Homo sapiens: one gene and its partners. The protein of the gene in region 1 interacts with the protein of each later gene in a biochemical or structural test. Each region holds a gene or a part of one and is shown in the gene's direction. Other genes may lie near its edges.

The links.
Region 2: of the proteins of RNF25 (region 1) and CDH1, one has a biochemical effect on the other in vitro, tested with the Homo sapiens proteins (one study listed by BioGRID).
Region 3: of the proteins of RNF25 (region 1) and PRKACB, one has a biochemical effect on the other in vitro, tested with the Homo sapiens proteins (one study listed by BioGRID).

What each region holds. Positions count from the first base shown.
Region 1 is NC_000002.12:218,668,428-218,677,069, reverse strand, and holds the start of RNF25 (E3 ubiquitin-protein ligase RNF25), read left to right. Parts: upstream 1-5,067; 5' UTR 5,068-5,099; coding exon 5,100-5,140; exon of another isoform or gene 5,141-5,211; intron 5,212-8,390; coding exon 8,391-8,465; intron 8,466-8,642. Other genes in the region: STK36 (serine/threonine-protein kinase 36), read right to left, coding at 792-1,041, 1,597-1,727, 3,114-3,191, 3,305-3,445, 4,157-4,240. UniProt on the Homo sapiens protein: E3 ubiquitin-protein ligase that plays a key role in the RNF14-RNF25 translation quality control pathway, a pathway that takes place when a ribosome has stalled during translation, and which promotes ubiquitination and degradation of translation factors on stalled ribosomes.
Region 2 is NC_000016.10:68,810,292-68,818,616, forward strand, and holds part of CDH1 (cadherin-1 isoform 1 preproprotein), read left to right. Parts: coding exon 1-50; intron 51-1,392; coding exon 1,393-1,568; intron 1,569-1,843; coding exon 1,844-1,972; intron 1,973-3,021; coding exon 3,022-3,204; exon of another isoform or gene 3,205-3,271; intron 3,272-5,223; coding exon 5,224-5,468; intron 5,469-8,325.
Region 3 is NC_000001.11:84,181,598-84,189,922, forward strand, and holds part of PRKACB (cAMP-dependent protein kinase catalytic subunit beta), read left to right. Parts: intron 1-39; exon of another isoform or gene 40-62; coding exon of another isoform or gene 63-131; intron 132-602; coding exon 603-731; intron 732-2,439; coding exon 2,440-2,538; intron 2,539-3,502; coding exon 3,503-3,585; intron 3,586-8,325. UniProt on the Homo sapiens protein: Mediates cAMP-dependent signaling triggered by receptor binding to GPCRs.

The sequences.
Region 1 (8,642 bases):
CCCAGCTACTCGGGAGGCTGAGGCAGAAGAATTGCTTGAACCTGGGAAGCAGAGGTTGCGGTCAGCCGAGATCGCGCCATTGCAGTCCAGCCTGGACAACAAAAGCAAAACTCTGTCTCAGGCTGGGAGCAGTGGCTCATGCCTGTAATCCCAGCACTTTGGGAGGCTGAGGCAGGCGAGTCACGAGGTCAGGAGATCAAGACCATGCTGGCTAACACGGTGAAACCCCGTCTCTACTAAAAAATACAAAAAAATTAGCCGGGTGTCGTGGTGGGCACCTGTAATCCCAGCTACTCAGGAGGCTGAGGCAGGAGAATGGTGTGAACCTGCAAGGCAGAGCTTGCAGTGAGCCAAGATCACGCCACTACACTCCAGCCTGGGTGACAGAGCGAGACTCTGTCTCAAAAAAAAAAAAAGAAAAAAAAACTGTGTCTCAAAAAAAAAAAAAAAGCGTGTAGCACCTTTCCTTTCTCTATCTTCCTCCTGGTCCACCACGTAAGACATGCCTGTTTCCCCTTTGCTTTCCGTCATGATTGTAAGTTTCCTGAGGCTTCCCCAGCCATCCTTCCTGTACAGGCTATGGAGCTGTGAGCCAATTAAACCTCTTTTCTTTATAAAATACCCAGTCTCAGGTGGTTCTGTATAGCAATGCGAGAACAGAATAACACAGCCATTAATTCAGTAACTGCAAAGTCCCGCCTCAGCTCTGGAAAAGGATTTGGAAAAAGGAACAGAGATAGAGGGAGACAGATTTCTAATGTAAAAGTCATCTCCCTTTCAATATTCATTACCTTAAAGCAGGGACTGATGGTTGAGGGCCAGCGCACAGGGTCCTTGAGAATGAGGCTGACCAGCTGAAAGATGCTTGTAGCATAGAAGGGAGGGGTGCCTACTGCCAGTTCATATAGTATGCAGCCAACAGACCAGAGGTCCGCTGTGTGGTCGTATGGTCGCTCCTCCACCAGCTCTGGAGACATATAGAGTGGTGTGCCTTTGATGGATGTCAGCACCATTGTATTGGTGCTCATAGCCCGGGCAAATCTGCAGAAGATAATGGGATGGAAATGGAAAGGGAAAAGATATTCTAAACCTGGTCACTACTACCTAACATAGAGATATCCCAAACCGGAGCAGAGGGAGCACCTTTGATTAGGTTCCAGAAGACCCAGCAGCAGTCCCAGCCTCTAGCTCCGGTTCTAAAATGAGGCCCAAATAAGTCAAGAGTATGGTCTAAGATTCCCTGTGGGGCCAGGCTCAGTGGCTCATGCCTGTAATCCCAGCACTTTGGGAGGCCGAGGTGGGCAGATCACCTGAGGTCAGGAGTTCGAGACCAGCCTGACCAACATGGAGAAACCCCATCTCTACTAAAAATATAAAATTAGCCAGGCATGGTGGCACATGCCTGTAATCCCAGCTACTCTGGAGGCTGAGGCAGTAGAATTGCTTGAATCCGGGAGGCAGAGGTTGTGGTGAGTGGAGATCGCACCATTGCACTTCAGCCTGGGTAACAAGAGTGAAACTCCATCTCAAAAAAAAAAAAAAAAAAAAAGATTCCGTGTGGAACTGGAAGCTTAGATGGATGCTCAGAATCTTTACCCAAAGTCACAGAGCTTGATGCCACCACCCTTGGCGAGGAGGATGTTCTGAGGCTTCATATCTCGGTGTAGGATGCGGTGGGAATGCAGATAGTACAGGGCTGACACCAACTGGGCAGCAATGGCCTGAACCTAGAAATTAAAGAGGTGGAAGAAAGAAAAAAAAGGTTAGAAACAGCAGCTGGCTGACAAGCCCAAAAATTTCTCTTAATATTACTGCTAATCTTTTCTTCCTTCCCTTTCTTGCAGAGCTTCACACTATTCTTTCTTAGTTATTGTTCCCCTTGTTTAATCACTCTTTCATTTGCTCATTCATTCATTCAAGAAAAATTTATTGAATCTCATTTACTATCTGCTTGACCATGGGCAAACTAAGGTGACAATCTATATAATAACACCATCTACATGGAGGATTATTGTGAGGACTGAGTTAAAGCATGCAAAATAATACTCAGAATGGTGCCTGGCACATAGTAAATATTCAATACACATTACCTGTTATTAAATAAGACAAAATGCCTTTTTTCAAGAAAAGTAGTCAGACAAACAAACAAGACAGATAAAACAAATATGGTGGTCGGGCGTGGTGGCTCACACCTGTAATACCAGCACTTTGGGAGGCTGAGGCGGGCAGATCACCTGAGGCCAGCAGTTCGAGACCAGCCTGGCCAGCATGGTGAAACCCCATCTCTACTAAAAGTACAAAATTAGCTAGGCATGGTGGCGCATGCTATAATCCTGGTTACTGGGGAGGCTGAGGCACGAGAATTGCTTGAACCTGGAAGGCGGAGTTTGCTGTGAGCCAAGATTGTGCCACTGCACTCCAGCCTGGGCAACAAAGCGAGACTCTGTCTCAAAAAATAAAATTCAATTAAAAATAAAATAATTTCAAAAATATGATTACTTACAAATAGTGGTGAGTGCTCAGAAGGAAAGAGAATGCTGCAATAATGAATCCCAGGGGGGGCCTACTTGCTTGGGTACAGACAAACGCCTAGAATAAATGTGGCTGGAGGATATGTGCAACAAAATCCCACTGCTAACCACTACGTCCTGGTGCCAAATCCTGACTCCCCACAACCTTTATTCTTACTGCCCTCTTTCTGGTACCATTACACTGGCCCTTCTTCCCTAAAGGTATCTAATAACAATAATGTTAATAATAGCTAACTATTCAAACACATTACATGACTTAACACTCTTCATCATAGACTTATCAGGCAAACATGATTATTATCTCCATTTTACAAATTAGGAAACTAAGCACAAAGAAATTAAAGTAACTTGTCCAATGAGACCCAGCTAGGAAGGAGCAGAGCCAAGCTTCCTGCTCAGATATTTTGACTCCAACGTTTACATAATTTACTCCCACACTACACTGCCTCTATATACCTAGACTCTTATATTCTTCTCAGAAGTCTTTGAAATGGAGACTCTCAGTGTCCTTAGCTTGCTCTACCAGTTCTCTAACCTGGAGAGAGGTCGGAGGTGGGGAGAAGTTGAAGGCAGAAAGCATACCTGGTCTTCAGGAAGTTTTCCGTCATCTTCTAGGATCTGAAAGAGCTCTCCCTCAGCATAGTCTGTCACCACCACCACCTACAGAGAGAAGGCAGTGGCACTGATGGCTCCAGATTCATGCATTCTGAGGTTGGGAAATTCCTGGAACCCTTGTGCTTGGGGAGACAGGGCCCAAAACTGTCAAAGCACACCTCTTTATCAGTTTCAAAGCTGTCAAGCATATGCACAATGTTGGGATGCCGCAGACCCCGCATTATTTCAATCTCTCGTTGCAAATTCCTCAGCTCCTTCTCTGAGCGCCCCAATTTTGGGATGAACTTCAGGGCCACGACCTGTCAGTGGTAAGGTGAAAAGTTAACGCCTAATCACACTACTGAAAAGATCTAGAATTTCAGCCTTAATCTCAGAGCTCCAGAAGTCAGATTTTAGAGTGTTTGAGTAACTCTTATTATTTCTGTTAGTCTCCCGCTTCCATTTTCTCCATGGTACCCTGGCCTTATCCAGGCTTTCCCCATTCCTCATCCCAGGAGGAAACAGCATCTGCAAAACATTTCCCCTTCTGGAAGAAGTGTTCTGATTTGACCAGCACTCAAGATGAGATTTAGGAGAAAGGAAAGGAAAAAAAAAATGAAGAGGAAATAATAGAGTTCAAGTGGTTTACCTCTTATTACATGGTGTGCTAGAGACTAATAATATTTGTTGTTTACTAACAGCCAGGCACTGTACTAAGTGATTTAATGTGAAAACATATTTAATCCTCAAACTCCATCAATCAGTTGCTGTTCTTATCCCCATTCTAGAGATAAGGAAATTGAGACATAGGGAAGTTAAGTAATTTGTCCATAATTCTAGGGCTAGAAAGCGGTGGAGATGGAATTTGCACCCAAATAATCCAACTTCAAAGCTTATACTCCATAAGAAGTATGAGGGAGTCAGTACCTTAGGAATACAAACTGGTATAAATACATTCCTTCTAGATCCATTTTCCACTGGAGTTGGGGGTACCAAATCCCACCCAAAAGGTATCCCTCTTTGTGCAACACCTGAGCACTGTATTTTCTTCGACCCTTGTACACCCTCCCAAAAGAGCCTTCTCCAATCATCTCCAACACGTGGTACTTTTCCATGACAGAGGTTTCAGGATCTCTTAGAAGGAAGAAAGTAGAGACGGTGAAGAGCTATAGATCCAGGGACAGTTCCACAACATCTGGGACGCCTAGTTGGGGCACGGGAAAGGAAAAATGTTAGCCACCTTGCCTTTTCCTCTTTTTCACAATAAAGCCTCAAAAAACATGGGAGGGTGGAATGCATGCAAAGATGATGCGCTCTTGGAACAAACAGAGCTTCTCTTTGTAGTTCCTCCCCACTTTCATCCTCCTGTCCCCAACCCGGCCCCATGCCCAACTAACACCTGGTTCCCCTTCTCCCTCACCCAGCCTGGCTCACTCGACCCTACTCTTTCAACCTAGCCTCGCCCAACCAACCCTGCTCCTTTGAGTCTCCCCCAAGTTCCTGCCACTCCCAGACTCCTCAGCACCCGCTCTCAGACCCCCTGGCCCGTGCGCTTCGCAGGCCAGAGCCCCTCTCTCACCCCCAGCCTAGGAGCTCCAAGCTCCTCAGGCCAAGGGACGGATTCCCTGGCGTTTAGCCCCATCTCTTCTGGCTGCCTGCATACGTTGCCTGACTTATAATTCTTCTCCACCCGCCTCTCCCTCCGGTCTCTTTCGGCTCCCTTTCTTACAATTTTACTCGCTAGAACTGGTGAGAAGTTCAGAGGACAAAGGCGCTCAGAGGTGTGGAATGGACGGCGGACCACACATGGGCACTTCCTGGGACACATCCGAACTGCCTCAGGGCCATCAGGCCCGGCTAAGGACCCGGAGTCTGCGGTTGCCTAGAAACGACGCTAGCTGCCCACCCCTCTTAGTTTTCCGCCTCCGACTTCCCTAAGGGCATTTCCGGTTCCGGCTGCGGGCCGGTGAAGATATGGCGGCGTCTGCGTCTGCAGCTGCAGGGGAGGAGGACTGGTAACTTTGGGGGCATGGGCTTTGGCTGACAGCCTGGATCTAGTCCAGAGGCCTAGCAGCTGTCGCAGACGGTCCGTACGGCGGGCGTGTGGGGTGGAGCGAGGGATGAGGGATGGCAGAGATGCTGACATCTCTGGGAAAGCTGGACTGGGGAACGGGAGGGTGGAGGGGCGCTGATCTGAGTGAGAGGAGAACGGGTCGGCGCCCGCCAGGCCAGTTCAGGCCTCGCCGCATCCGGTTCGATCCCTTTTCCTCCAGCTTCACGCCATCCCTTTCTCTCCTCCTCAAATGAATTTTCTCAGGGGCTTTGGGGGATGCCTGCCCATCAGACCTCCCCATCTCCCTTTCTCCTCTCAGAACCAGTGCCCTCCAGTTCCGGCCCCCTTTCCCCTTGGATCAGCCTTTTTCCGCCGACGCTTTCCTCAGCCTTCTCTCTCTCACACAGCACTAGTGAGGACTATTGTATGAATAAAGCTTTACACTTCATATAAAGTCCCTCTAGTCCTTCTCTCAAGCATTCTTAACCAAAGACTAGAACATGGAAGGACTCTGGGATTTGGAAGTAGGATCAATGTGGGTTAACTCCACATTTTATTAGCTGTGTGATGCTGAACAGGCCATCTAGCTTCTGTGAGTCAGTGTCCTCAGCTGTAAAAAAAAAAAGTGGGTGTGGCATTTACCTCAGAATAGTTGAGAGGATCACGACGGATTTGTAATATACTTAAGTCTGTTTTTTGTTTTGTTTTGTTTTGTTTTTTGAGACAGAGTCTCACTCTCGCCCACGCTGGAGTGCGGTGGTGCGATTACGGCTCACTGCAGCCTCGACCTCCCCAGGCTCAGGTGATCCTTCTGCCTCAGCCTTCCGAGTAGCTGAGACTACAGGTGTGTGCCACCATGCCTGGCTAATTTTTGTATTTTTTGTAGAGACGGAGTTTTGCCATGTTGGCCAGACTGGTCTTGAACCCCTGGGTTCAAGTGATCCTCCCACCTCAGCCTCCCAAGGTGCTGGAATTACAGGCGTGAGCCACCACACCCGGCCTCCTTTTCATTAATAACTGAGGTGCAGGCACCTGGGAAGACTAGATGAGTCCCAAAGAAGTAAAGTGATTTGCCAAAAGATAGAAAATTATGAATAGAAATCCATATCTGTCTGACTCCACACCTTAGATTCTTTGTACTAGGACATTCTTCAGTCCCCACTCCCCCAATTTTTTTTTTTTTTTTTTTTTTTTTTGAGACGGAGTCTTGCTCTGTCGCCCAGGCTGGAGTGCAGTGGCGCAATCTCGGTTCACTGCAAGCTCCGCCTCCCGGGTTCATGCCATTCTCCTGCCTCAGCCTCCCGAGTAGCTGGGACTACAGGCGCCCGCCACCACACCCAGCTAATTTTTTGTGATTTTTAGTAGAGACGGGGTTTCACCCTGTTAGCCAGGATGGTCTCTATCTCCTGACTTCATGATCCACCCGCCTCAGCCTCCCAAAGTGCTGGGATTACAGGCCTGAGCCACCGCGCCCGGCCCCCCTCCCCCATTTTGTTGTCACCACCTTACCACCATCCCATCCAGGACCCATATAACTAGGGTGGGCGAAGTATTGAAGGGCCACTTGACTGAGGCTACACCTCAATGTTACATTGGTTCAGGGAGCCCAGCTAGTACTGGCCGTTATTAAGAGTATCTAGACTACTGGTTTTCAAAGTGTTCAGGGAAACTTCTTTTTTTTTTTTTTTTTTAAGAGACAGAGTCTTACTTTGTCACCCAGGCTGGAGTACAGTGGCAAGATCATGGCTCACTACAGCCTCGACCTCCTGGGCTCCCGTGATTCTTCTGCCTCAGTCTCCCAAGTAGCTGGGACCACCGTGTCCAGTTAATTTTTTATTTTTTGTAGAGATAGTGTCTCGCTTTGTTGCCCAGGCTGGTCTCGAACTCCTGGCCTCAAGTGATCCTCCCACCTCAGCCTCCCAAAGCGCTGGGATAACTTACAGTTTACCTGTTCAGGGGAACTTTTAAGATTCAGGGGAGACACCTTGAGCCATGGAGACAGCAACAATGAGTGCAGCAGCCTGTAGTACTGTGAGACTCCCACTCCCATGTCAGCCAGAACTACACTGTTATCTGTGAGGTGTGAAGCTTTATATTTTATATTTTGAAGTTTCTGCCTAAGACTTAACAACACTGACATAGGTCGTGCTGGGGCAGCCTTACTCTTAGAATGAAGAGGGAGCAGTGTGAGAAAGCAAAGTGTGCATTTTTCCATGTATCACTTGGTAGAGCTGTAGACACAAACTGATCACTCAGCTTCAATTTCATTACAACTGCTGTTTCTATGCTTAAGTATGTGTGTCCCTTGATTTACATCAGAACCATGGATCCTAACCTCAACAGGCTGATCTAGATCAACCAGACAGCCAGGTCATAAATACATCCAGAGTACTCTATTACCTCCTTCCTTCCCTCTTTCCTTCTAAGGGAGAAGGTTATATACAGACAGGAAAAAAAGAGGACGTAGACTAGCTACGATAGCCCAGATACTATTAGGTACTTTATGTAAACAAATCACCTTTTATCCTCACAATAACCCTAGAGAGTAGGTGTTATTATCTATATGTGACAGACAGGATAACTTAAGCTTACAGAGAGGTCACGTCCCAGATTGCATAGCTTGTAAGTGATTGGTACCTGTTAACTAACTCCGAGGCTGCTGGCTCTTCCATTACAACACAGCCTTTATACCACCCTAAATATGTTGTGTTGAGGTTGCTATCTCCTTTAAGAAGGCTTAGGGTGACTGGTGTTAAAACTGTATGTAGACAGTAGCCAAGGCACTGGGATCCACACTGGACAGTGACGTAGGGAAAGGTTGGAGTAATATTGGTAACGTTAATGCTAATGAATGAGTGCCATATCTCTAGACCAGAGATTCAGCCACTAAGGGGAATGAAACTTAAACAGGGAGTCAGGAAACCTGGCTCTGGGCCTAGTTCTACCTATGTTAAGCCTTGGTTAGTCATTTTACTTCTCTAGAATCCACTTCTTCATCTGTTGGCAGAAATGATGCCTAAAATTCTGATTTCCATGCCTTCTATTTGGCCAGTTGACAACTTAAGGTAACATATTCCTTGTTTTTAAGGAGTTTAGCAGGAGAATGCATTCTGGTAGATTGCCATTTTTCTACAAAGCCTGCCTTTATTGGCCTTAGCAGGCTTCCACAGGGAGAGCTGTAATGGTAAGTTAGTCTACTCCTGTCTCTCTAGGGTCCTTCCCTCTGAAGTTGAAGTATTGGAGTCCATCTATCTAGATGAACTACAGGTGATTAAAGGAAATGGCAGGTATGTATTCAACCAGTGGTGGGCAGGAGTCCCCCTAGTAATGAGGAGAGGTTCTATGCTGAATTTGGGTCTTAAGACATTGTGAGCCTTGATTCAGAGATAATATTTCTCTTGTGTAGACAAAAGCTATTCCTTTAATCCTACCCCAAAAGAAAGAGTCCAATGTGTACTTCCTTT
Region 2 (8,325 bases), on another chromosome or scaffold:
ATTCACCCAGGAGGTCTTTAAGGGGTCTGTCATGGAAGGTGCTCTTCCAGGTATATCCACTAATGAGAATCTGAATACTCAGAAAGACTCTTAGGTTCTTTGGACCCCAAAGTGTTGTCCAAGCCCAAAGGTTGTGTAACTAAAGCTGATCCTTCCTACGGACAGAACTTCTTGGCAAGCCATTGTTGTGTTATATGCATGTGTGTAACAGTCTACCTGTGGAAACATATAAAATAGGGAGAGTTTAAGAACAATCTTCCCTTTTTTATTATTAATTTTTTTTTTTTTTAGGCTGGGCATGGTGGCTCATGCCTGTAATCCCAGCACTTTGGGAGGCCAAGGTGGATGGGTCACCTGTGCTCAGGAGTTCAAGACCAGCCTGACCAACATGGTGAAACCTCGTCTCTATTAAAAATACAAAAAAATTAGCCGGTCGTGGTGGCGGGGGCCTGTAATCCCAGCTACTTGGGAGGCTGAGGCAGGAGAATTGCTTGAACCCGGGAGGCGGGGGTTGCAGTAAGCTGAGATCACGCCACTGCACTCCAGCCTGGGTGACAGATCCAGACTCCGTCTCAAAAAAAAAAAAATTTTTTTTTCAGAGACAGGGTCTTGCTTTGTTGTCCAGGCTACTTTCAAACTCCCGGGCCCAAGCAATCCTCCCACCTCAGCCCCACAAGCTGCTAAGATTATAGGCATGAGCTACTATACCTGGCTAAGAACAACCTTCCTAATTAAGGAACAGATCTTTACCAGTACCTTAAAGCCCTAAACAATCCCCCTTGGTCACATTCTTTTCTCTCCTCCATAAAGATAACCACACCCTAGGCTGGGTGTGGTGGTTCACACCTGTAACCCCAGCACTTTGGGAGGCCAAGGTGGGCAAATCACTTGAGGTCAGGAGTTTGAGACCAGCCTGACCAACATGGAGAAACCCTGTCTCTACTAAAAATAGAAAATTAGCTGGGCGTGGCGACGCATGCCTATAATTCCAGATACTTGGGAGGCTGAAGCAGGAGAATTGCTTGAACCCGGGAGACAGAGATTGTGGTGAGCCGAATCACGCCATTGCATTCCAGCCTGGGCAACAGGAGCAAAACTCCGTCTCAAAAAAAAAAAAAAAAAAAAAGATAACCACACCCTGACTTTTGTGGTAATCATTCCCTTTCTTTTCTTTATTACCATTTGTGTATTTATACCTGGATAATAAGTTGATAGTTTGAGCTTTCTTTCTCCCCTAGCACTTTGGTAAGAATTCTAGGAATTAGGGAACTCTGACACGGTACCACCCCCATGTCCCCTCCTTTATCCCTCAGGGCAGAATTGGATTAAGCAGTATTGACCCAGTCCCAAAGTGCAGCTTGTCTAAACCTTCATCTCCTTGAACTCTTCCAGGAACCTCTGTGATGGAGGTCACAGCCACAGACGCGGACGATGATGTGAACACCTACAATGCCGCCATCGCTTACACCATCCTCAGCCAAGATCCTGAGCTCCCTGACAAAAATATGTTCACCATTAACAGGAACACAGGAGTCATCAGTGTGGTCACCACTGGGCTGGACCGAGAGGTCAGGGGTCAGGAGGATCCAGAGGGTGTGGAGGACAAATGTGTATTAGCTCAATCCCGTGGACAAAGCAAAATCCTGCTAGGCCAGTTGTCAGTTAATACAGTGATGGTCTAAGCTTTGCATCTAAGCTTGTGCCCAGAGGTTCCGTGCCTAGAAGACAGGCAGGCTGGCATGAAGCACATGGTTAAATATTCTGGTTCCATGTGTTGGGCTGGGCTAGGCCAAAGGTGGCTAGTGTTCCTGGTCCTGACTTGGTTGTGTCGATCTCTCTGCAGAGTTTCCCTACGTATACCCTGGTGGTTCAAGCTGCTGACCTTCAAGGTGAGGGGTTAAGCACAACAGCAACAGCTGTGATCACAGTCACTGACACCAACGATAATCCTCCGATCTTCAATCCCACCACGGTAATTCTATAACTCCTTAGAGGGTTTCCAAAGAAAGGTCTTTTGTTGTTCATGAACTAAGTGTCACCACTGCTCATGGGCGAAGTCTTTGAAAACTCTCTCCAGACTAGAGAATGTTAACTTTAAACTTAAAAGCAAGCATCTTGAGATGGCAGTTGTCTTTTAGTATCTTTTTTCCACCCTTGGCCTGGGGCCAATTGGTGCAAGATTGTGAAGTTGCAAAAAGCACCTACTGATTTCATAGTCTCATGGTACATTTTTATAGCAAATATTACCTGGTTTCATTTCTTTATTGAACAAATATTTTCTAAGTTTATATTAGGCACTGTGTTAGACACTGGAGAGACCATCACACACAAAGATTCCATTCTCATGGTGTTTCTGGTATAGCCAGGAAGACATCTTATGAGAATTATTGTATGCCAAGGATATTACATGCATTCAAGGAGAAGGTATTGAGAACCAAGTAGGGTAAGTTTAAATCATCCTGTATAATGGCCAGGCGTGGTGGCTCACACCTGTAATCTAGCAAGTTGAGAGGCCAAGGCTGGTGGATCCCTTGAGGATGGAGTTTGAGACCAGCCTGGCCAACGTGGCGAAACTCCATCTCCACTAAAAATACAAAAATTAGCTGGGCGTGGTGGTGCATGCTTGTAATCCCAGCTACTCGGGCATCTGAGGCATGAGAGTTGCTTGAACCCAGGAGGCGGAGGCTGCAGTGAGCCGAGATTGTACCATTGCACCCCAGTGCGCCCATTGCCTGGCCTCTCCTTGTCACATCTTCTCCTTGAAGCTTGCTTTCAGTTAGCCAGGTGTGGTGGTGCATGCCTGTGGTCCCAGCTACTCTGGAGGCTGAGGTGGGAGGATTGCTTGAGCCCAGGAGGTTGAGGCTACAGTGAGCCATGATCGCTCAAATACACTCCAGCCTGGTGACAGTGAGATCTTATCTCAAAAGAACAACAAAAAAAGAGGAATCCTTTAGCCCCCTGAGACTCAGCTCTGCTAGCAGTCTTGGTACTTTGTAAATGACACATCTCTTTGCTCTGCAGTACAAGGGTCAGGTGCCTGAGAACGAGGCTAACGTCGTAATCACCACACTGAAAGTGACTGATGCTGATGCCCCCAATACCCCAGCGTGGGAGGCTGTATACACCATATTGAATGATGATGGTGGACAATTTGTCGTCACCACAAATCCAGTGAACAACGATGGCATTTTGAAAACAGCAAAGGTTTGTATGGTACCTGGCAAGATGCAGAAACTGGCATCCTCACAGCTGTTCATACCCTTGTCCCCTGGTATCTTCTTAGAAGTAGATTCGCTTTGGCAGGGGGACAGGGTGACTTTCCCAGATTGTAGTGGACCATGTGGGATTTGCAGTGGCTCTTCCTGCTCATGTAAGAAATCAAGAAACTGTGCTGTGTGTGGTGGCTCACGCCTGTAATCCCAGCACTTAGGGACGCTGAGGCAGGCAGATCACGAGGTCAGGAGTTTGAGTCTCTGCTAAAAATACAAAAATTAGCCAGGCATGGTGGCACGTGCCTGTAATCTCAGCTACTAGGGAGGCTGAGGCAGGAGAATTGCTTGAACCTGGGAGGTGGAGGTTGCAGTGAGCCAAGATCGTGCCATTGCACTCCAGCTCTGGGTGACAGAGCAAGACTCAGTCTCCAGGGGTGGGCGGGGAAAAGGAGGCCGGGCGTGGTGGCTCACGCCTGTAATCATAGCACTTTGGGAGGCCAAGGCGGGCAGATCACAAGGTCAAGAGATCGAGATCATCCTGACCAACATGGTGAAACCCCATCTCTACTAAAAATACAAAAATTAGCTGGGCATGGTGGTGTGCACCTATAGTCCCAGCTACTAGGGAGGCTGAGGCAGGAGAATCGCTTGAACCTAGGAGAGGGAGGTTGCAGTGAGCCAGGATCGTGCCACTGCACTCCAGCCCGGCAACAGAGTGAGACTTCGTCTCAAAAAAAGGAAATCAAGAAGCTAAGGCTTCTTGGTGGCTCATGGTGGCTCATGCCTGCAATCCCAGCACTTTGGGAGGCCGAGGCGGGCAGATCACCTGAGGTCGGGAGTTTGGGACCAGCCTGGCCAACATGGTGAAAACCTGTCTCTACCAAAAATACAAAAATTAACTGGGCGTGGTGGTGCACACTTGTAATCCCTGCTGCTTGGGAGGCTGAAGCAGGAGAATCGCTTGAGCCTGGAAGACAGAGGTTGTAGTGAGCCAAGATCGTGCTACTGCACCCTGGCCTGGGCAACAGAGTGAGACTCTGTCTGAAAAAAAAAAGAAATCAAGAAGCTGTTACACAGGATCCTGAAATTGAAAAAGAAGTACTATCTGCTTTAATAGGCTCTTTCCCAGAAACATTCTCCTTCCCTCAGCTCTTTCCATTTTGCGGTGACAGAGAAAATGATTTACTGGTCTCTGCTCTTGTGCTGGTTTATTTTAGAAGTGGGGCAGATATGGTTGTTTTTGAAAAATGTCCTAGAAACTTGAAAACTAGCCAAGCGCAGTAGTGTATGGCGGTGGGCCCAACTACTTGGGAGGCTGAGGTGGGAGAATCACTTGAGCCCAGGGGGTTGAAGCTGCACTCAGCTATGATCATGCCACTGTACTCCAACCTGGGCAATAGAATGAGACTCCATCTCTTAAAAAAAAAAAAAAAAAAAGATGGCCGGGTGCAGTTGCTGATGTCTGTAATCCCAACACTTTGGGAGGCCAAGGCGGGTGGATCACCTGAGGTCAGGAGTTCGAGACCAGCCTGGCCAACATGGTGAAACGTCGTCTCTACTAAAAATACAAAAAATTAGCCAGGTGTGGTGGCGGGCTCCTGTAATCCCAGCTACTAGGGAGGCTGAGGCAGGAGAATTGCTTGAACCCAGGAGGTGGAGGTTGCAGTGAGCCATTGCATTCCAGCCTGGGTGACAAGAGCAAAAATTCTGTCTCAGAAAAAAATAAAATAAGGAAAGAAACTTGAAAACTAAGAATTTGAGTGAATTGCTTGTTGAAGTGACTGGATCCCTAGAATAGCCCCAGCTTTGCCTTCCTCTTGAGTAGGTGAGCAGATTTGAGAAGCCATGGTAAGTAATTGTGGTTTCTGCCATTGAAAGTCATGGCAGAAACCACAGTTACTTTTGCACCAACCTAATATATTACCAAAAGCAACAGTTAAGGATTTAATTTTATTTTTACTAACACAAAATGTTTCGTTTTGTTTTTAACTTCATTGTTTCTGCTCTCTAGGGCTTGGATTTTGAGGCCAAGCAGCAGTACATTCTACACGTAGCAGTGACGAATGTGGTACCTTTTGAGGTCTCTCTCACCACCTCCACAGCCACCGTCACCGTGGATGTGCTGGATGTGAATGAAGCCCCCATCTTTGTGCCTCCTGAAAAGAGAGTGGAAGTGTCCGAGGACTTTGGCGTGGGCCAGGAAATCACATCCTACACTGCCCAGGAGCCAGACACATTTATGGAACAGAAAATAACGTAAGTGTGAGGATTTTTCAACTGACTTGCAGCAACTGGTTATTTTATATCATTTTATATGTAAATCAATAATATGTACTTCATGGCATTTTGTCATTTGTCTGTACAAGACCATTCTCTTAATTTATTTTTTATTCCCTTTATCTGTGCTCCTTTCACCTGTTCCCTTCCCTTCACAGACAGCCGTTCTTGGTCTGATGTGCTGCCTCTCTTTGAGCTCTTGTAGTATGGTAGAAATGCAATTTTACTTTGCATACATACTATTGTGTTTTTTTGAGTTTGGAGTCTCACTTTGTCGCCCAGGCTAGCGTGCAGTGGCGTGATCTCTGCCTACTGCAGCCTCTGTCTCTTGGGTTCAAGCAATTTTCATGCCTCAGCCTTCCATGTAGCCAGGATTACAGGTGCCTGCCACCACGCCCGGCTAATTTTTGTATTTTTAGTAGAGACAAGGCTTCACCACATTGGCCAGGCTGGTCTCGAACTTCTGACCTCAAGTGATCTGCCTGCCTCCTAAAGTGCTGGGATTACAGGCGTGAGCCACCGCACCCAGCCCATAGTATTGTGTTCTAAGTAGCTTACTATCAGTATTTCTCCTTTCAAACTTGAAGGTACCTCTATAATGTAAATCACACAGATGCTGAGAACTGAGAACCCACATGCCAACCAACCAACTACAACACTTGCTTTAAAATACTCTCATTTTGGGTTGGGCATAGCAGCTCATGCCTGTAATCCCAAAACTTAGGGAGGCCTAGGCAGGTGGATCACTTTGAGGCCAGGTGTTGAAGACCAGTCTGGCCAACATGGTGAAACCCCTGCCTCCACTAAAAACACAAGAAATTAGCTGGGCATGGTGGTACACACCTGTAATCCCAGCTACTCGGGAGGCTGAGGCACGAGAATCACTTGAACCCAAAAAGCTGAGGTTGCAGTGAGCTGAGATCGAGTCACTGCACTCCAGCCTGGGTGACAGAGTGAGACTCCATCTCAAAAACAAAAAACAAAAAAACTCTCATTTTCTATGTGTAGCCAATGGACTCCTCATAATCTAGAGATATTTCTACATGCTCCAAACTGTAAGGCCTGGCAAGATGGGTTTTAATCGAAGTTTAAAAGAATGATGAAAAGTCAAAGACAATAATGTAGGATTAGGTTCAGTGATGAAACCCTGGATTGTACAGTTTCCAGGCTGGGTTGAAAGCTTGCAGTAGTGAAATAGATAGTTCAAAGCATCTCCTGGGGCAGATTCAGGGACCAGGTCTTTAGTGTCTGTTTCCAGAGGCCCTTACGCCTGGAACAATGACCACTTGATGTAATTCATTGCTTTGCACTTCCAAAGAAGTGAGGCCAAGCCCACAGTTTCTTAGAGCCCTTTCCTCCTTTGATTTCTTAGTTTCTCTTTCAGAGCCTTTCCATGACCCTAGTAAATAACTGAGCAGTAGATCTCTGTTAGCCTCCCTGTACCTCCCATTAAATGGCAATAGTGCAGTCCACCCACAGGTCAACAGGGCAACCTGCATCTCCAGATGTTCATGACAGGAGAGGAGGTGGCATGTTGCCACCATTTAGGAACTACTGTATTGTTTGGGGGAGCTGGTCTGCAGGAGTCTGCTTTTAAAAATAAATAAGGATTATAGTAATCATTGCTTCAGCAAGAATCATCCACAGATGCCAAATCCATTGGGTGAAAATTAGTTGCTGAACAAGATATTCTCAAATTATCTACCTGCAGATTATAGGTTAATCATGCAGTGAAAAAAGGCACCTTTGCTGTGAAGAAATCTGGTGGCCTTTCCCTTATCCAAGTGATCAAAGTTATCAATAGAAGCACAGACAGACATCATGTGCCTCCCAGTGTCCTGCACTAGGGAGGCCACAGCATCACCTCTGTCCTGTTCTTGCCCCCACCGACCCCTGAAATGGATTACCTGAATCTAAATTTTGAGGAATAATCAGACAAACCCAAGTTAAGGGGCATGCTACAAAACAACGGCCAGCACATTTCAAAAATGTCAGTGACAGAAAAGAAAGACCTAAGGAAGAGCCATGCCAACGAAAGGCCATATTGGATCCTGAATCCAGAAGGGTGCAAGGTTGCTATAAAGGACATTTTTGGAAAATCTGACAATTCGAATATGCACCATATATTCGACAATAGAATTCTATCAAAGTTTTGTTTCCTAAAATTGAAAATCAAGACTGGTCACGGTGGCTCACACCTGCAATCCCAGTGCTTTGGGAGGCCGAGATGGGTGGATCATCTGAGGTCAGGAGATCGAGACTATCCTGGCTAACATGGTGAAACCTCGTCTCTACTAAAAATACAAAAAATTAGCCGGGCGTGGTGGCGGGTGCCTGTAGACCCAGCTATTCAGGAGGCTGGGGCAGGAGAATGGCATGAACCTGGGAGGTGGAGCTTGCAGTGAGCTGAGATCACGCCACTGTACTCCAGCCTGGGCGACAGAACGAGACTCTGTCCCAAAAAAAAAAAAAAAGAAAAGAAAAAAAAAGAAAATCAAATTGGGGTTATATAACAGAATGCCTTTGTTCTTAGGAGATAACACATTGACATATTTATAAGTAAAGGAACATGACTTCTGCAATTTATTTGCAGATGGTTCAGCAGAACAAGAAATTATGTAGGCGTGTGTCAATATAGACAGAGCAGATGTGGCAAAGTATTAACAATGAGTAAACTCAGGTGAAGAGTTCATGGATGGTCATCATACTATTATAGTAACTTGTCTGTTGTATTGTTGGTTTTCTTGGTTTTCTTTTTTTTTTTTTTTTTTTAAAGACGGAGTTTCGGCCGGGCGCGGTGGCTCACGCCTGTAATCCCAGCACTTTGGGAGGCCGA
Region 3 (8,325 bases), on another chromosome or scaffold:
TTGTTGTTTTAGATAATACTGTGTTTTTATAATATAAAGAGAGAAAGCCACTAGGCTCTCTCATGCTGCTACTATCTAGTTCTATAAGCTTATATAAAGACAGAAATGAAGCAAGACTGATTTCTTCACAGGTAACTTTAGTGAAAGAGCTCTGATCCCTCAGTTTATCTATTCATTACAGTTATTTGCAAGTGCATTAAGTCTGTATGGCTTCTATGACTCTTTGTCAGTATGCCTCTGGTCAGTTTGTAATTATTAAAATATGAAACTAATTTATTGGAAGTTCAGTAGTAAGATTAAAGTCCAATACTAGGAATGCATACTGGAATATAATCTTTAATATTTCAGCTGAGGCTCTTATTTCCTCCTATTACTATTATGCTCTGTTTTCCAATACATTCTCTCCTCAGATATTAAATACTTTCTTATTCAAAGGGAAAAATAGAACCAATAAACTGGAATCTCAATAGCTTTTTTGTATTGCATTTAAATGGATAGTTATAAATGGGATTATCCATTATGATTATGTATTATTAAAGCATTTATAATTCCCATAGTGTTTTTACGAGAATTTTAAATTTTATTTATGTATTTACATATAGAATAATGCCGGACTTGAAGATTTTGAAAGGAAAAAAACCCTTGGAACAGGTTCATTTGGAAGAGTCATGTTGGTAAAACACAAAGCCACTGAACAGTATTATGCCATGAAGATCTTAGATAAGCAGAAGGTGAGTGTATTTGTTGTTATTTACCTTCAGGGTAAACTTTAGTTTTATCAGCTAGACTATTAAACAGATTCAGTATAATGACTTACCATTGACAGCTTCAAATAATTTTATTATTAAATTTAATTTTTATTGTAACTAAATTTTTATTGTAACTATATTATACATAGTTAGTATACAGTCAGCCCTTCCATATCTATGGGTTCCACGTCCATGGATTTAACCAATCACAGATTGAAGATATTTGGGAAAAAAATTACATCTATACCTAACATGTACAGACTTTTGTTTCTTGTTATTATTCCCTAAACAATACAGTGTAACAACTATTTACATAGCATTTACAATATATCAGGTATTATAAGTAATCTAGAGATGATTTAAAGTATATGGACAGTGTGTATAGGCTTTATGCAAAGCCTCTGTCATTTTATATAAGGGACTTGAGCACCTGGGCATTTTGGTTTCTGCTGTAGGTCCTGGAACCAACCCCCAGGGATACTGATGGACAACTATAATTTATTGTGACAATTATGGACTAATTTGTTTTGTAACTATTACAGAAGTTAAAATGTGTACAGTAGTGATCCAACCACTTCATGTTACAAATTTTGAAAACCTGAGGCCCAAAGATTTGAAATCATCTCAAGTCAGAAAGTTAGTTAAATAAAAGGCCTAGATTAAAACACAAATCTGACTCCTACTCAATTTATTTGCTCAATATTATCAGTATACTCCTAATTTTATATATTAATACCTGGCTGGTATCTTTAATTACTTTTGTTATTTATATTTAACTTCTTGACTTCTGTGACTATCCTCACATTGACCATTAGACTCCAGCAAGAAAGAATGCCACCTTCTAATGATTTACACATATACAAGAAAATTATTTATATGTCTTGCTAAAGTCACCACTTCTTAAATTCAAAATAGAATCACATATGGAATAGAATCACAGTCTTCGTGAAGTCAAGATAAATTACTTTCCCCTTCTATTAAATAGAAAATCTAGAGGAAGCTTAAGTCTAAATGACCTAGGATACAAAGATAGTTTTTGTTATAAAGATAGTTTTTTCCCCAATATTTTGTGTGTCCTCTTCTATGGCAATATAAAATAAATTTTTAGAATTTATACCTATATTTATTTAGATATTATAAAATGAAAATTGTTCATTTTTACTCACTATTTTTCAGTTATGGACTTTCTCTTCATTTTTAATTTTCTTATTCATCTTCTGAAGTATTTAAAATCACTATCTACTTATTGCAGAGATTTGAGCCAGCTTTTATAGAGGACTTTAAGTCATTAGGACCTTAGTATTTTCACATTCATTTTTAAATTACCTTAAGTAATTATATATTTATTTAAGCATAATTGACATAACTAATTTTTAAAGTAATTTCTTATGAGTTTGTTTCTTATTCCTACTTAGCTCTCACTTCTTAATTGAAACCATAATTGACCTTCCTAAGACCAAGTTTTAAATCCTCTATTAGGTTTTCATTTGAATCCTATTATTAAAAGTAATGGCAAAAACCGCAATTACTTATGCACCAACCTAAAAGTTGGTAATTGTTATTATCTTCCTTATCCAATTCTAACAATTTTGCTTATCCAAGTTTATTACTATATGGAAAACATTTTTTTAAATGATAACTTTTTAATTTTGCTTAAATACATTAAGAGATATTTATCTCTCAATTACAGGTTGTTAAACTGAAGCAAATAGAGCATACTTTGAATGAGAAAAGAATATTACAGGCAGTGAATTTTCCTTTCCTTGTTCGACTGGAGTATGCTTTTAAGGTAAATTTTAGTAATATCTAAATAAGATATTTTCAACCTAAATTTTTTTTAAGATGAAACTATAAATGGATTCTAAACCAGATGATAAGCCTGAAGAATATGAATAAACAAAACGAATACCTCTAGAGTTTGTGTAATTAAATCCTATTGTGCTTATAACTTAGGTAACGTTTGAAAAGGTTTTGATTCTCCCTGGGGAAATTGTTCAAAGGTGATACTCATGAGATGGTATTACAAAAAGAAATATTTCAATTTATCAAAAACCATAGGGATATCTTAATAACAATTCTTATGCAAATTCATACACCCAACACATTTTCTACTTTGATTAAGCCCTTTTTGCCACTATCTCATCTTCTTTTACTTAGTAATTTGAGTTCTAGTCTTTTCACTTATACAAAGCAAAATTTTTGTTCCACTATTCAAATGTCTGAAAAATTGTACCACATTTATTATTTAAATTGGTCACTTTTGAGCTCTTTGGAATGATACTGGCATCTCTCTGCAATATTGAATCATATGAAACATTTTAATCTTTTTTCTCCTTTATTCTTTAAATTAAATGAAGACCTATGTATTTAAAATATTAAAACCATTAATCTTTTATACATAAAATGTAAATATTCTTATTAACTTTTTAAATTGTTTTTTACCTTTGTTATTCTTTTGCATATATTATAACGTTACTTCATTGCCTGAGTATTTAATTGTTTGAGAACTAGATGTTCTCTGCAAGAAAAGGAAGAGCAAAAGTCCCAGACTAGTTTGTGGCAAAAATAACTAGGAGGGGAAAAATATGAGTGTCTCTGTATAGAAAAGCTAGAGCATGTTCCATTTATTCTTTATTTCTCAAGGTTATTAATCTGTCAGAGAGATTTTAAATTTTTCTAATTCAGCATTATATAATATTAAAATAATTTTGACCTAAGTTGAATAATTGTATTTCCTTTTTATTTGTTCATAGGATAATTCTAATTTATACATGGTTATGGAATATGTCCCTGGGGGTGAAATGTTTTCACATCTAAGAAGAATTGGAAGGTTCAGGTAACTAATGGTTTTGCTTTCTTCAAATCTTTATATGCTTGTGTTGTTTAACCAGATTTTTAAGTTGATGCCAATGCCAAAAACTTATTTTGTTTGATTAATATTTTGGCCATATGAAGCATTAGGTGGAAACAAAGAGGCCACATCATACACAAGTTTTAATATAAAGAATATAAAAATTTAATATAAAAAAAGGACTTTGAAGCCAATTTAAATGTTATACTACTGCTAGATATTGTGAGGGTCCACTACTTGAAGAGTTTTCAGAAAATGGAAAAATTAATTGAATTTTAAAATATCAATATTTATTAAACAAAGATTAATAATACAACTCCAGGACAGAGGATTGTTTTAAGGATGAAGATGGAAAATAAATATATAGAGAAATAATAATAATAGTATTATGGTAATAAGATTATAAAAGTTTGTTTTTCACAAATTTAATTCTCCTTAAAGTTCTTGCTAAGTTTAGTTTTTAAAATATACACATAATTTAACGGGAGTTTGTACCTCATCAGGTTATGACTAATAAGATCTCAGAGTTATTAAAATAGGTTATAGAATCTGATGGTTTTACCTGTACTTAATAGTTTATAAGCTTCTACCGTTCATTAATAATCACTAATAGAATAAAGCTAAAATAAAAAACAGGTACAGCTTCATTCAGTATAGTGTGTTGAAGTCAAAATAAAAATGTAGAGACAAATCTCTAAATTCAACATTTTATTGAGGAAGCAAGAATTGCAGTTTGAGGCATATACACAGACTAGGTGGTCTTCAATGTGTCTAGAAAACAAAGAAAAGGTTGGAGGTTTTATAAAAAGAAATTTTATGTTTATTTGTTTTGAAACAAAGTTTACTAGCACTAGTTAAGTTTTGGGGAGCTGGCAAGCTCTGATTGGTGAGTGATGGTGGTGGGTCAGACTCGTCTAAGAGTCGCAGTAGGTTGTCTCAGTAGCTGTTAGAGAAAACTGGTTTCAGGTTACAATAGGCAGTTTCAGCAACTAGACTTGTGGAAAATATAATTTTTTTGTTTGTTTTTGGTTTTTTTTTTGAGACTGAGTCTCCCTCTGTTGCCCAGGCTGGAGTACAGCGGCACCATTTCGACTTACTGCAACCTCTGCCTCCTGGGTTCCAGTGATTCTCTTGCCTCAGCCACCCGAGTAGCTGGGACTAGAGGTGTCCGCCACCACATCCGGCTAATTTTTCTATTTTTGGTAGACACAGGTTTTCACCGTGTTGGCCAGGCTGGTCTCGAACTCCTGATCTCAAGTGATCCACCCTCCTTGGCCTCCCAAAGTGCTGGGATTACAGGTGTGAGCTACCACACCTGGCCTTAATTCTTGGAGCAGGTGCTGTGTGCCCTGAGTGCGTTATTCCCTGGCCCCTCGACTCTGATTTAGTTAGGTATGATGAGAATGACTAATTTGTATAATCAGCTTTCACATTTTTCCCTTTTGATCAAGATCTTTCTCTGAAAGCATTGCTTGTCAACCATCTTGAAGTTAGGCTTAATTATTCCTTGGTGCTCGGATGGACTTGTTCTGGTTGTCTCTGTCCCACATATGAGAGAAGTTATCTGTTGGGGGGTGTCTATGTAGGGACCTGGGCCACATTCAAGTAACGAGGAGGCCAGAAGGAAAATTTTTCTCAAAGTAGATTTTTGTCTGGAGTCCAGCCAGCATCGAGTTCCCACTTATCACTTCCATAGGTATTAGCAGTCATCTTTAAGTGTTGGGCTAACGTTATTCTGTTGGGACAGCTGCCTTTACAAAGATTAGATAGGCACTAAGAACAAAGCTTACAAATGATAGTACAAAAAAATTAACAATATAGTAAAATGTATTTGTGCAGTGCTTTTGAACTAAAGCCCAGGCCTAAGGGCAAAAAACTAAAGAAATCAAAGGACCAGGGGAAACTGGTGAGACCTGCTATAGCCATTGACTAACATTTTATGACTGGGTTGAACTAAAGCAGAGAATGCCAAACTTTGCAAGAGGGACCACCAGCACAAATTAAACAAAAAATTGTGTTAAGGATATTGTCGATGTTGTGACTAGATGAACTGAAAGAATTTCTTAAGTCAGGCTTTGTCAATGGCTTTAGCAGGTCTCACCAGTACCTATAGCAGTTACTGATTGTGAATTTTAAATTACAATATTATTTGGTTAAGTGAAAAAGCAGGCATTAAGAGGGGTAAGAGTTTCATTACAATATGGAGTCTTGTTCTAGTGTTTTGAGAAAAGCTGTTCACACCATGGAAAACATCAACTTTCTTGGCTTTGTTTACAGTGTAAATGTCTCTGGCTATGGCTTTGGGCAGTTTGATGAACTTTCTGTGTGGCCCATACATCAGGCATGAGACTTGTTTCTTAAAATTTATATAGTTTCAGCTAACAGGACTTCAGGAACAGAGCGGTTCTCATTTTAGTAATTTTATGGAAGAAAGTTCGATTGGAGGAACCTAGAAGAATTTAGGACCTTGTCTAGTCTATAGGTAGATAACAAGACTCAAAAATAATGTACAGACTTACAGTCTAATAACAGGTATATTATAGTTATTCTTTAGAAAAAACTTTTTTCTCTACATTGATTACATAGGAATCTTGGATTTAAAAACCTCTTGAGGCAAGGAAGCCGAACCAAGGCAGTCTTAGATTTTCCTTACAGTCTTGAGGTTCCTGGTCCTGCCAGGAAGTAACAGTTTTTATTTACTCATTGTAATGCTGAGAAACCCTTGAAGTCAGGCATTTTATGCACTTTTTAAATACGATAGTTCAGTTAGAGCCTTAGTAATATAATCAGTGTTTTCATATTCTGCTATAAAGAGAGAGCAGATTTTTACTGGACCTGTGCAAATAGTCATATTCCCATAAAAGTACTTACAACTAATTTTTGAATTAAGGAGAAAAAAAGCAAATGCTTTTATCTTTTTTTACAAAAATATACTTTACCAAATTGCTATAAATTATAAATAGCTAAAGAGATAAGTTTTTTTAAATCTGGAAACCAAAATATTTAAGAACTAACAATGTAACAATGTTTTAAATGAAAGTTATGAAAACATTATTTTTATCAATTATTTAATTTCATGTAATTTTTGTTCTGCTTGATCTTAATTAGTATTTTCATATACTCATCTTTTTTTATTAGGGTTCTGGAAATTTTTATTTAGTCTATTGATCTTAAAGTTATTAAAAACCTGTATTTAAGGGTACTTGTTGGGGTCTTTTCTATGAATCTGATTGTAAATAATTTTGAGAATTCAAAATATTAACTCTGGATGACAAAAATCTAGAATAGCCATGGGTAAAAATCTGATGAAAGTTTACAATTAACAAGTAAAATTAGTTATTTCTATTTTATCTAGCATTTTAAGACAATAACCAGAATTATGAATAACGTTAATTTCTCTGAATTTATATAATTTTTGAAACATTCATATGAACAACATAGCCATAAATGCAACTAAAAGATCTAGTATCACATCATTTATACAATCTCTTATATAATTTAAAAATAAATCTAATTATTTAATACGTCTACAAGATGAGATCTGTGTCTTCAAATGTTTTCCAAGGGCCCAGCTGGAAAATCCCAAAGCTAATTCTAGATTAAGAACATTTAATTTAGGATTTGATTTTTGGGAAGTTTGTTAAACATCTTAAAAGACTTAAAACCCTTGGTCAAAACGGAGTAACAGGTCACTGTAAAATAATAGTCATTTATTTAACCAGAGTGATAATCAAAAGACATCAGATGTAATACAGAAAGTTATATGAATGTGAAAACTTTTATTATTTTTAAAGCTCAGTTTTTCTGAGTAATGAAAAACCTGATAAAGACAACATAGGATATTATCTTGATAAAATATAAAATCTAGTTTTTTAGACAAATCACCAAAATGGTAAAGAAAAATCTTCTGCAGTATGCTCATTATTTCTTTTTCCCATTTAGAGCTTTCCATTAAAAAAATTACCAATCATCTGAAAGTTGATTGAGTACTTGAATTTAATCAGACACAGGAAGAATGTGTCCAGGGTTATTGAGTGTACACTGTGTTATAGAAAAATATGAACAAGAAGAGGACTATCTTGAGCAGGGAAATACATGGCTCTCAGTAACAGCATGAGAAATTTCCTGGTTACATGAAATAATACAGACATACCAAGAAGAGCCAAGAATACAGATTCAAATTATACTGAAAGAAAACTTCGTTTTTCTAGGCCTTTAAGATAAACGTTTCTGCATCAGGCCATAACAAAGTTCAAACTGAAAAAAAAAAAAAAGTTCTAGGAGTTGAGGAAAAAGGTTGAAGGAGGGAGTTATCAACCCAGCCAAGCAAAAAGATATACCTTTCAAGAAAGAGAAGGGGATGTATGACCTTCAAATCATGTGTAGTGTGACACAGCAAAAGCCGAACTTCTGAAATATAAATTTCAAAAGGAAAACTTTACCTCAAGAAATGGAATTACTATTTTTAATGAAGAGGACAGCATTTCAAACCTAAAACTAGGGAAATTAATTAGATCTCAGGAAGAAATGTGGCAGAAATAGAAATTGCACTTTGGAAGATGGCTGTCAAAGAAACAGATTTTATAATTAAAAATCACAACCTTTTGCAGTATTATTGAGAGCAGATCAATACTTCAAGAAAGTTTTGTTTAAATATAGAGAGCAAGATTCTGGTCCTTTGTCAGTGCACCCTTGACACCAATCATTAATTTTTAGAAAAATATG